Linked DNA regions of Homo sapiens: region 2 is reported to be linked to region 1. The links are microRNA targets in miRTarBase. Many come from high-throughput screens and were not tested one by one. Region 1 holds a microRNA gene; the other region holds the end of a gene's coding sequence.
Evidence for each region. The annotated mature microRNA hsa-miR-8089 reads CCUGGGGACAGGGGAUUGGGGCAG and lies in region 1 at 2,605-2,628, shown strand. An mRNA with a match to its seed (bases 2 to 7 or 8) in the 3' UTR can be bound and repressed. Matches are read on the target gene's strand: a 7mer-m8 pairs with bases 2 to 8, a 7mer-A1 pairs with bases 2 to 7 and ends in A, and an 8mer does both.

Region 2: miRTarBase lists CHD7 as a target of hsa-miR-8089. The part of its 3' UTR that is shown has no 7-base or 8-base seed match.

Annotation. Positions count from the first base shown.
Region 1 is chr5:181,040,666-181,046,040 of GRCh38, reverse strand. MIR8089 (microRNA 8089) reads left to right here and starts at 2,557; the gene lies at 2,557-2,638. BTNL9 (butyrophilin like 9) reads right to left here. Exons shown (of 11, transcript NM_152547.5): 2 at 443-574. The coding sequence starts at 551. RefSeq lists a silencer at 1-159.
Region 2 is chr8:60,865,440-60,870,754 of GRCh38, forward strand. It overlaps CHD7 (chromodomain helicase DNA binding protein 7), which reads left to right. Exons shown (of 38, transcript NM_017780.4): 38 at 1-2,589. The coding sequence ends at 494. Among named protein-coding and RNA genes, the nearest start is that of CHD7, 190 kb to the left of the region's middle.

The DNA.
Region 1 (5,375 bases):
ACAGGCTGGGGAGATGGTGGAGGAGGTGTTGGGGGCTGGGGAGATGGTGGAGGAGGTGTTGGAGGCTGGGGAGATGGTGGAGGAGGTGTTGGAGGCTGGGGAGATGGTGGAGGAGGTGTTGGGGGCTGGGGAGATGGTGGAGGAGGTGTCGGGGGCTGGGGAGATGGTGGAGGAACACTACAGGCTGGGGAGATGGTGGAGGAGGTGTTGAGGGCTGGAGAGATGGTGGAGGAGGTGTCGGGGGCTGGGGAGATGGTGGAGGAACATCACTACAGGCTGGGTAATGCTCGGGGTAGTGGCTCTTTAACAACCAGGATGGAAGTCTTTTTTGTATTTTAGCGTCTGGCACGCCCTGGTACTGTGCTAAGATCGTAGCCCTGGGGAGCACCTGGCAGGAGGGGTGGCGTTCACATCCTGGCCAGCTAGGCTGCAGACACAATACCTGAGCTCGGCTCCCCAGGCTGAAGGAGGAGGAGGTGCATGAGGAAGACAAGACTGCTGGTCAGCGATACTGGCTTCAAGGAGTCTGGGGAGACTGAGAGGTCCACCATCTCTCGTCAGCAGTGGGGGCCACCTGGAGAGGGACAAAGGGGTGCTGGAGCGACGTGCAAAGGTAGGGGGAGCTGGAACTCACTCCATCAGACCTGAAGTCTGTTGTGGCCTCAGTTATTTTTGTCTAGTTCTCAAATTCCTTACAAGCCTCAGCGCTTGGCTTCTTCCATGGCCAGAGGGGAGAGCTGCTTCTAATTTTCCCAGGGGACACTGTTAATGGCATCCGTGGCCTTGCCCAGGTTCACAGAGCTGCAAGGGGACGAGGCTGAAGGATCCCAGAGGAAGCAGCTTCTGTGCTGCTTATTGTTTAGAGCCAGGAATAGAGCCACACAATGTGTGGGGGCTCAGCGCCCCCCCTTTTCTGGGCTTAGCGACTTTCCTCAAACAAAGGGCAATCTCTGAAGATCTCAGATGCATTTTCATTCTTCCTGCCTCACCACCACCAACCCAACCTTCGTCCCACTTCCCTTTGGTCTGGAACATCGAGTCCGCAAAACAGAGGAACAAACACAGAGTTCTGCTCTCTCAGAAGTGGAGTGCATGCAGGTGGCTGCCTGCCAGCCCCAACGACATCCTAGGACACTCTCCTCCAGGCCTGGGACCTCAAGTTGTGCCTTCAGGAGGCCAGCTGGTAACTGTCTCTGTGTCGATAGCATCTTCGGGGCTACAGTGATGGAGTCATCCCATCTAGCCACCCCTTCCTCATCTATGACCCAGGAGGCCCAGACCTGGCCCAGACAAGGGCTACCCCCTCACTCCTGATGCTCTGCTCCCTTGGGACCCACTAATGACTCACGGCCAGAGAGTGTGCTGCTGCCAATGAGTCTCTGGAGATACACAAAACTCTCCATATTTCTCTTGCATTTAGTTCTGCAAGATTTTAGGCAGATTCTGTCATTGGCTGGACCGAAATCTCTGCCTGAACCATGGAAGAAACCAATGCCCACTCCCATGGGTTGCTAGGAGCTCTTGAAATCAAAGTCAGCACCTCCCTTCCCCCTGCCTTCCCAACGCCCACGCACTGTCTTCGTCCTGGGACTGCACCCCTTGCCTTTCACTTCATCACAGTGCCCTTGTTGGAAGGCCACGGTGGGCTCCTCTCTCCAACCCTCTCTGTCTCCCCGTCGGCCCCCACGGCTTGGCTTTTCTTCCGAGACCTTGGCATGGCAGGTGTTTCCGGTGTCCTGTGGCCACAGGGCACTGGCCACACTGTCAGCAACACCATCAGCAGGTGTGAAGGAAGGACTTTCAAAGCTGCTGGGCCATGCAGAGGCAGAAGGATCAGAGGAGGTGTGCAGGGTGAGTTAATGAGGTGGTAGAGGCTCCCCAGGGACCCTTAGGCTAGGAGGCACCCAGACAGGCAGGAATACAAGGGAAGAGGGGTGGCCTGTGAGGCGCATGGGCTGATGGCCCTGTCTCCTAGAGCTAAAATTGAGGGGACAAACAGAGGACAGGTTGGGACAGCTCCAGGTGTGTTTCAAGAAGGTTCAAGGACAGGAGGTGGGGTCCCCCCGAAGCGGGGCCGTGTTGACACCTCTCAGTTATTGGAACACGATTCACACAATAACCAGCATGGGCAGAGGCCTCGGGCAGGGTCCAGGCCCTGGCTGGACAGTCCAGACTCTCACCCTCTGTGGCTACTGGTGGAAGCCTCTCTGCGACAGGTGGGGAAGCTGGCAAGGAAGGGTTCCAGCAAAGGGGTCTACACTGGTTGTGCACCTTCTCACCCTCTCTTCTGTTCCCTTCTCTTTTCCTTTATACTTCAGTCTTTTCTTCTGGATTCTAGACACAGGTTAGAGCTCCATGACAGCAAAACCAGGAGGGGCACGTCAGTGTTCAGCTAGTAACTTCCAAAACCAAGAGGGGCTCAGGGTGTGTTTATGCATCCATTCAGATGGGTTGGGTTCTGGGGAATTAGTCGAGGTTGTGTTAGGTTGTGACACAGGTCTGCTCATAAGGTGGTAATGGGGCGCGAGACAGGTCCCACAGCTGGCCTTCTCACAGAAGGAGCACTCACTCCAATTTCCCTGGACTGGGGGCAGGCTGCCACCTCCTGGGGACAGGGGATTGGGGCAGGATGTTCCAGAACCGTGGAAGTGCTAGAGGGACCTCAGTTCTCTGTTGTGATACACCCGTGTGATTCCCATCATGGAATCTTCAGGGGAGGAGGATTGTAGACACACACACACACACACAGACACACACACATGCACACACACACAGACACACCCATGCACACACACACAGACACACACATAGACACACACACAGATGCACACACACAGACACATACACACACACACACGTGCTGACAGTAATAAAACTAACATGCATTGGGTACTTCCTATCTATCAAACACTTATCTATACCTCAGTATTATTATTTTTATTATTATTATTACTAATAGGTCCAAATTATAGATAAGGAAACGGAGGCCCAGGAGCTGAGTGACTTGCTCCTGCACACAGTGGGTGAGTGGTGGGGTGGGGTTCCACCCACTGTCTGGTTCCAGAGCCTCGCTCTGCACTTCTCGAATTCAGATTCCTCACCAGCTACGTCGTGTGTCTGGGTACACCCTTCCGTCACTCCTGTTACCCAAAACCATGACCGTCTCAGGAACCAGCTGGCCACAGACCAAACACTCACCCTAACCTGCCATCACACAGAGGCACTGAAGAAGCGACCGGCTCACACGGTGCCAGCCACAAAACCAGCCAACCAGCCAACTAATGAATACAAAATTTAAAATCCCGCTGCCAGATAAAACAACTTAAAGCTGAGGTCTCCCTAAGACTTTGTCAAGAGCATCTTCTGAGCCAGGAGGAACAGGTACCTGGTCCCTTTGCTCCCAACACTCAAGGGTATCATCTTGAAAGCCTTTAGCAGAGAGAGATGGTCTGGCAGCTTCCTGAAGGGAAAAGTCAGCGGCTCCTGGACAGCACCCTCCTCCCCGTTTGCTGCTGTGCGTCCGCCCTTTCTGACCTCACTCTTCAGTTAAGGATCCAGGGTGCTCAATCCTTACTTGAAGCGTAAGTCCCCTCCTCGAAGGAAACACTTTCCACCCTCTGCTATTTTGATTACAGTGTAAATTGATTTCAGGTTGTTCCTGGTGAGGAGGTTTTGCCTGGGGAAGGAGTAAGGGACTGGACGCGTCGGATATTTGGGGAAGAAGGAAAACCCAGTGTGCGCAAGGACCACAAAGGGGTCCTCCAGCTGGAGCTGAGCTCTGCCGGCGGGCACGTGCTGCTTGTCCTCCCAGGAGCCTTGGGCTGCTCCCTCCGGAAGGCACAGGGAGAAATAAGGGGTCCTGAGAAATGTCACTGCCTGCACCCAGCAAAAGCCCATTTCTTTCTTCTCCTTCTCTTTTTATTTTTCTTTTCTTCTTGCTCTCTCATTGCCCCCAGCCCGCCCCACTCCTGTTCTCTCCTCCTGCACCTGCAATTCCTAAACAACCCTGATGTTTTTCTGATTTCCGGTCCCTCCGTCGAGTCTGTCTTTAAAGATGAGTACTTTTTGCTTTGCTACTGTTATTTTTTTAGATAATTTATTGTTAAATAAAGAATTTTAAAGCAAAATGCAGTGGGACAGATGTCAAAGGCAAGTTGAAAACATAATTTCTGTCAAATACTATTCTGGATTTCCTAAGGTTAGGCACAAGAAAAGCATCAAATGAAAAGGTACTTACTCAAACTAAGTCTTTTTAAAAAGTCTGTATTTGAAAGGAAAACAACTTTTCACTAAAAATATAAATCATTCTTATTACAGGAAAACCATAATTTAAGAGACTGAGAAAAGTTTTTGATTCACAAATAAATGGCATCTCCCTAATACACTTAGGACTGTTTGTTTTTAATCAGTGACTCTTAAAAATCACTGCTTCCACCTGACAAACTCAGGCGAATCACTATGGATTGGTGTCCTCTGAGCCACCCTGAAGCATCCCATTTTCTCTACACATGTCCTTTTCTCCAACTTTCAGCAAAGCAAGAATGGAGAAAAAGAGGATTAGAAGGAACTTCAGTTGGTTCCCTGGTGAATAACTTAACAAAATAAAACCTGCTTTTCCATTTGTATTACACATTCACAATCTCTCACTCTTACTTACTCTATTGGTGAATTTCAGATTCTGTCCACACATATAATTATTTGCCTGAACTTAACACTATCTTCCTGACAAATAGTAAATCTCCCAAGGACATCTCCGAACCTGGCAGTGTCCACAGGCCACGTCCTCCCACAGGAGTCCCTCGCCTGCTATGCAGCTGTTGGCGTCCTGAGCGATCCCAGTGTTTCCATGGGGGCAGAGCAAAACCTTGGGGATTCTCTAACATAATTTTAAGACTACATTTCACACTTAAATGACCACGTTATGAAACCTGGCAGGAAAATCCATGTTATTAATAAATGCCATGTCTCTTGCTCTCCCAAACACAGGAAGTATTTTTTGCTCTGCATATGTCTGCGGAGACTGTGGGGTCCCAGAGTGGAAAACTTCTCTAGTAACAAAGTACAGAAATTATCCCTGAAGTATAGTCTTTGCTTTGCTACTTCTGTAAGCTGTGTAACTGGTGAATTTTGCCTGTCTCCTGTCCTCCACTCCCCAAGCTGCAAGTCCGCAGGTGTCAGTGGGGCCTTGGCCCTCTCCCACGGGCCTCCCCGACACCCCCTGCAATGCCCTTCCCCCCGGCAGACCCCAGCTAGTGCTCACTGCCTGCGCTGGTTTGATTTCGATAGGTCCACAAGAGGATTTCCACCCTCTTAGTCTCTAAGGAAGATGGACTGCCCCAAGAAGGGAACCGCAATGAGGCTTGAAATCTTTTTCG
Region 2 (5,315 bases), not on the chromosome of region 1:
GAGAACCGGAAGACAGCACTTCAAAAGGAGAGGAGAAAGGAAATGAGAATGAAGACGAGAACAAAGACTCTGAGAAAAGCACAGATGCTGTTTCGGCTGCTGACTCTGCGAATGGATCTGTTGGTGCTGCTACTGCCCCGGCTGGATTGCCCTCAAACCCGCTAGCCTTCAACCCTTTCCTCCTGTCCACAATGGCCCCGGGCCTCTTCTACCCATCCATGTTTCTACCTCCAGGACTGGGGGGATTGACGCTGCCTGGGTTCCCAGCATTGGCAGGACTTCAGAATGCCGTGGGCTCCAGCGAAGAAAAGGCTGCTGACAAGGCTGAGGGAGGACCCTTTAAAGATGGAGAGACCCTTGAAGGCAGCGATGCCGAGGAGAGCCTGGATAAGACTGCAGAGTCCTCCCTCTTAGAAGACGAAATAGCACAGGGTGAAGAGCTAGACTCACTTGATGGGGGGGATGAAATAGAAAACAATGAAAATGATGAATAACCAGTACCAGTTCCAGTTCAAGTGTTTAAAACTTTTGACAAGTGGTAGTCCTACTGTTTACACTCACAGTTAATGTTCATACCTAGTTTTATAAGCTGTTCTGTAACATAGTGTAGCAAAAAAAAAAGTTCAAGTCATGTTATACAGGTGTGTCAAAAGGTATCTTGGTCATTAAGTATTGTGCAGTGCATTATTTATTATCCCTAGGAGAGATGAAATTTGAGAGGTGATCATGTCTTTTTAAGGAAACTTACATAATGCTCTGCTTTTTTTTTTTCTCTTGGTACCATTGGTATTATAATAAAGAGCAATTTGTAACTGAGTGGCACTAATGGAAGAAAGTGCTGCTCAAAGGAAGTATGAAGTTATATATTTAATTTTTTAATTTTAATTTTTAATTTTTTTGCTGTGAAGGTCAAGCTGAAATTTACCATACATATCATACTTGCTCATTTGTTTCCCTTTTTGACTGTATGGGGGTTCCCACACTCGTGCATACACACACATCCATACACTCTGACAATCTCCACGCTAGTGTGAACGCCTCTGTCCCGAGGCGCAGCAATAATAAGGCAGCTGTTGAATGTGAAGGGTCCCTTTGGAAAATTAACCTACTGGGAGGGTTCTTGCCAGACAGAACTACAGTTCCATTGTCTCGTGGTCTTGTAATGCACTGGTAAAAACAAAATAAATAGATGAATAAATAAAGAGTGAGAGAAGAGAGAATCAGGTACCTTTTTTAAATTAAAGGACTTTGTTACTTTAGCCACAAAGCTAAAACAGCATTACCTCAGCTCTAAACTAGCCTTGAAGTTTACAGACATGACTTTGTAAATGTATTGTTTTTCTTTGTTGTGATGTCCTTTTATTTTTTTCTTTGAAAACTGCTATCATGTAAGATAAAATGTAAATTGCTGCCAACTGTAGTAATGATGCTTTTAATAAAAGTGACCCATGATATGCAGAGATGTAATTATAGAATGTAGTATATAGGGAAACTGGTGTTCACTCTATTTTTTTTGTATTCGCAATAGATGCAAATACAGCATTCTGGCTTTTGTACAGTTTCTTGATATATCCTCTTATACTAGATTAGCTTTTGGTAAGACACTAAACTGTCTCGAAGACTAGACAGGAAGGAAAACCTTGAATTACTCTCACATAATTCCACTCCAGATATCTCAACAGAAATGCATACAAAAAGCTCCTATTACTCCCTCAAAAGGGCATCTGAGACCGAGAATACTTAGAAATGTGTGCAGCGTGTGATAATGTGGTACACTGAAGAACAAAAGGGCAAAAGAAAAATGAGGCTTTAACAGGCACAATATCTAGGTCATTTATCCTTGGTTAATGGGTAGAAAAACACAATGCGGTAGTGTCAGCAAGGGACACAAAGGCACTCTGGTGTCCTGCAGACCAGCGCTCGATGCCAGAAACCAGTGTGTGGAAAAACCCATGTGGAATTGAAACAGACCCACTTAAGCACGCACGCGCGCACGCACGGTCTCAGGAGCTACTGATTTGTGGACCCCTTTTTGACCTTTGGTATTTAAAGTAAAATATAATTTGAGATCTACTGTTTTCACCTTTTTATGTCACCTGAACCAACACAAAGCCATATTTCCATCCAGTTAAAAAGCAGGGGAAGGGATGTGGACGAGAGTGTTTCGTGTGTGTTGCCTTCCTCCACACCCTTCCCCCAGGACGTCCGCACACAGTCCACCTCCAGCCAGTGTGCTGCCAGACAGGTGGTCTAAATTCCTCCCAGACTGTGAGATTCAGTTCGTTTATGCCCCAAGATGAAAATATGCCCCTTAATGATTCTGGGAAAGAAACAACCTGAACCCTCCACCTTACAGATCCTGTGATTGCTTTTATTTATCATCGTCGTTGTCTGCTGAAAGTGAATGGGCCGTGCACACTGGAGGAAAGTGCCTTGAAGAGAATATTTTTTGAAAGGGAATTATTTGAACACGGGAAAGTGAAACTAGGTCTGCATGAAGTATAGGAAATTTAAGTATTTAAGTAACAAAGATGTTAGCAGGGAGAATTTGCTTAATAAAATGAGTCATTAAAGGGTGTTTTTTTTAAAGTTCTTTGTAGTATTGGAAATTTTCCTATGAGCCTCTGTAAATAGAGAATATAATGTGACACTGTTAGGATAAAATTCTAAGAGCAATGATGATCTTCAAAGCAAAGCCATCAGTTGCTCGTGGCCAGAGGACCCCTGAGTTGTTGGGGCTCACTGGCTTGTTATGTGCATCATCCGGTACTCATCTGTTGACGTGGCTTTAATGTCATTCACATTTTCATATTGAAAAATGCATTTTTTTTCTTCCAGTGAAATTCATTCTTGGTAGTAGATCTTGAATCTACCTAAGTATTTTATTTTCTTTCTTTCTTTCTTTCTTTTTTTTTTTGTTGTTGTTGTTGAGACGGAGTCTCGCTGTCTCCCAGGCTGGAGTGTAGTGGCACAATCTCAGCTCACTGCAAGCCCCGCCTCCCACTTTCACGCCATTCTCCTGCCTCAGCTTCCTTAGTAGCTGGGACTACAGGCGCCTGCCACCACGCCCAGCTAATTTTTTTTGTATTTTTAGTAGAGACGGGGTTTCATCGTGTTAGCCAGGATGGTCTTGATCTCCTGATGCTTGTGATCCACCTGCCTCTGCCTCTGCCTCCCAAAATGCTGGGATTACAGGCGTGAGTAAAGTATTTTCAATTCAGTCAGATACTAATGGGTATGATCGTGTGCCTAGCATGGAGGAAGCACTGAGGTGCCAAGGGTTCTCCTGGCATTGCTCCCTGATGGAAGTTCTGTTCTTCCCTGAGGAGGCTGAGGCCCGGGAGTTGGCATCATCCCCAGCAGTAAGTGCAGGAACAGGACTTGAACTCAGGTGGTCTGACTGCAGAAGTCTGTGTATGTGCTCCTAAAATACTGTGCTTTTAGGTCTCTGAAAGAAAATTATGACATAAGGATAACTGAAAGTTCGCTGTTTATTCCCCTTCATAACATCTTAAGTTTGAGGTTGGGAATTAAGAGAAAGTCTTGAATTAGAGACTTAGCTCTGGCTAAGGAAATGAATCCCACCTACCTCATTTAAATTTGGATTTATTTTGCCCCACAAGTATTTCTATTTTATAAAGAAATCAAGTCTTTAAAAAGAATTTGTCCAAATAAGTTACAGAGAGAGTAAATTGCCAGCCTGGTATTTGAACCCCAATTGATGTAACTCCAAAGCCCAGGCTCCTAACCACTATGCTAGTGTAATTAACATTCATCAGCAACATTGGGTGCTGTGTGCTAGAGGCTGTGCTGGGAATATAGAAATGAAAGCAAACAGACTAGTCCCCTGCTGTCATGCAGCTTACATCCTAGTACGAAGAGATGCATAATAGAATACAAATAAAATGTTTGCAGGGCAAGGAAGACTCTTAAATAAGGTGATAGGATGGCCAGGAAAAAGCTCTCTATGGAGGAGACAGCTCACACCTGAGTGATGAGAAGCAGTAGGCAGACTATATTCTAGTTGGAGAATTGTCCAGACAAAAGGAATGACAAACGCAAAGACCTTGAGCTGGTAATGAGCTTGGAATAAGGAGTGGAGAGGCCATCTGCCTTGAAAAGTTGGGAGGCATGGTCAGATTACATAGGGCCTGGATGGCTCTGGTGGAGGATTTGGGTTTCATGCTGAGTGCTGTAGAAAGTCTTCTGAAGGTTTTATGCAGAAAAATGGTCATTTTCATGTTTTTAAAGGATCATTATGTCTGCAGTTCAAAAAACTCCCTTGTAAAGGGGAGTCAGCAATTCTAGCTGGGAGATGGCTGTAGCAACCTTGGGTCAAGTTTAGTGGGCAGTAATGGAGAAGGAAAGCCATGGATGGACTTGGGATATGTTTTGAAGAGGTAGACCCTCCAATTTAAATGAACTTTTCAGTGAATAATTTGTATTAATTCTTCAGGACTACTACTAAAAACTAACAGATAAAGAATGTTCACCATGCTAATTTTTTTAAATAAGAATGTTGTGATTAGTGTTAGAAGAAGATACTGGGAAAATAAATTTTTCCATCATGTACATTATAAAATTTTCTTTTTAGTTCAATGAAAATTGTTAATTGTCTGTGGGAAGAGTTTTAGACATTAATCCTGACCGGTAGAGGAGGTGAGAGTGAGCATTGTTGAAGCAATGTGTGTTACAGCAAACATCTCTGTGTCTCTAGGGCCATCAATAAATTTAAATTAGGAAGCAAAACAATGTAAATGACTTCTACTAACAAGCACTTAAAAGAATACATCTTATTCATTCAACTTGGCTCTCTAATGAGCAATTTTATATTTTCTTAAGCACAGGTAAGATTTACCACAGTTTTACAGACATAGTAAAATAAGCTATATTTGGCAAAATAGATGAATAAATTACCTTCGGGAATACTTTACCTAATGTAAGACTCTTAAGCATTTCATTATTGAGATTTTTGGTAGGGGAGTCACTTAATTTGAAGATTTTCTGGTAAGGGTTAGGATGATCGTTTTCTAAGTATTCTGGACTATTTAAGTTATTTTATGCAGTGCAACATAGCGCCACCCTCCCAATAGGTCTATTTGTTTATAAACCTTGTTTTGGATCTACAGATGTAGATTTGAATTTTAATTTGGATCTCCTTAATCAAATGTGTACTATGTAATTTAAATGAAATTAAATAATAAGCTAGTGACAAAATTTGAAATATTTTGACATCTAATATCTTTACCTTCCGAACGATTTACTCTTTTTTTTTGAGATGGAGTCTCACTTTGTCACCCAGGCTGGAGTGCAGT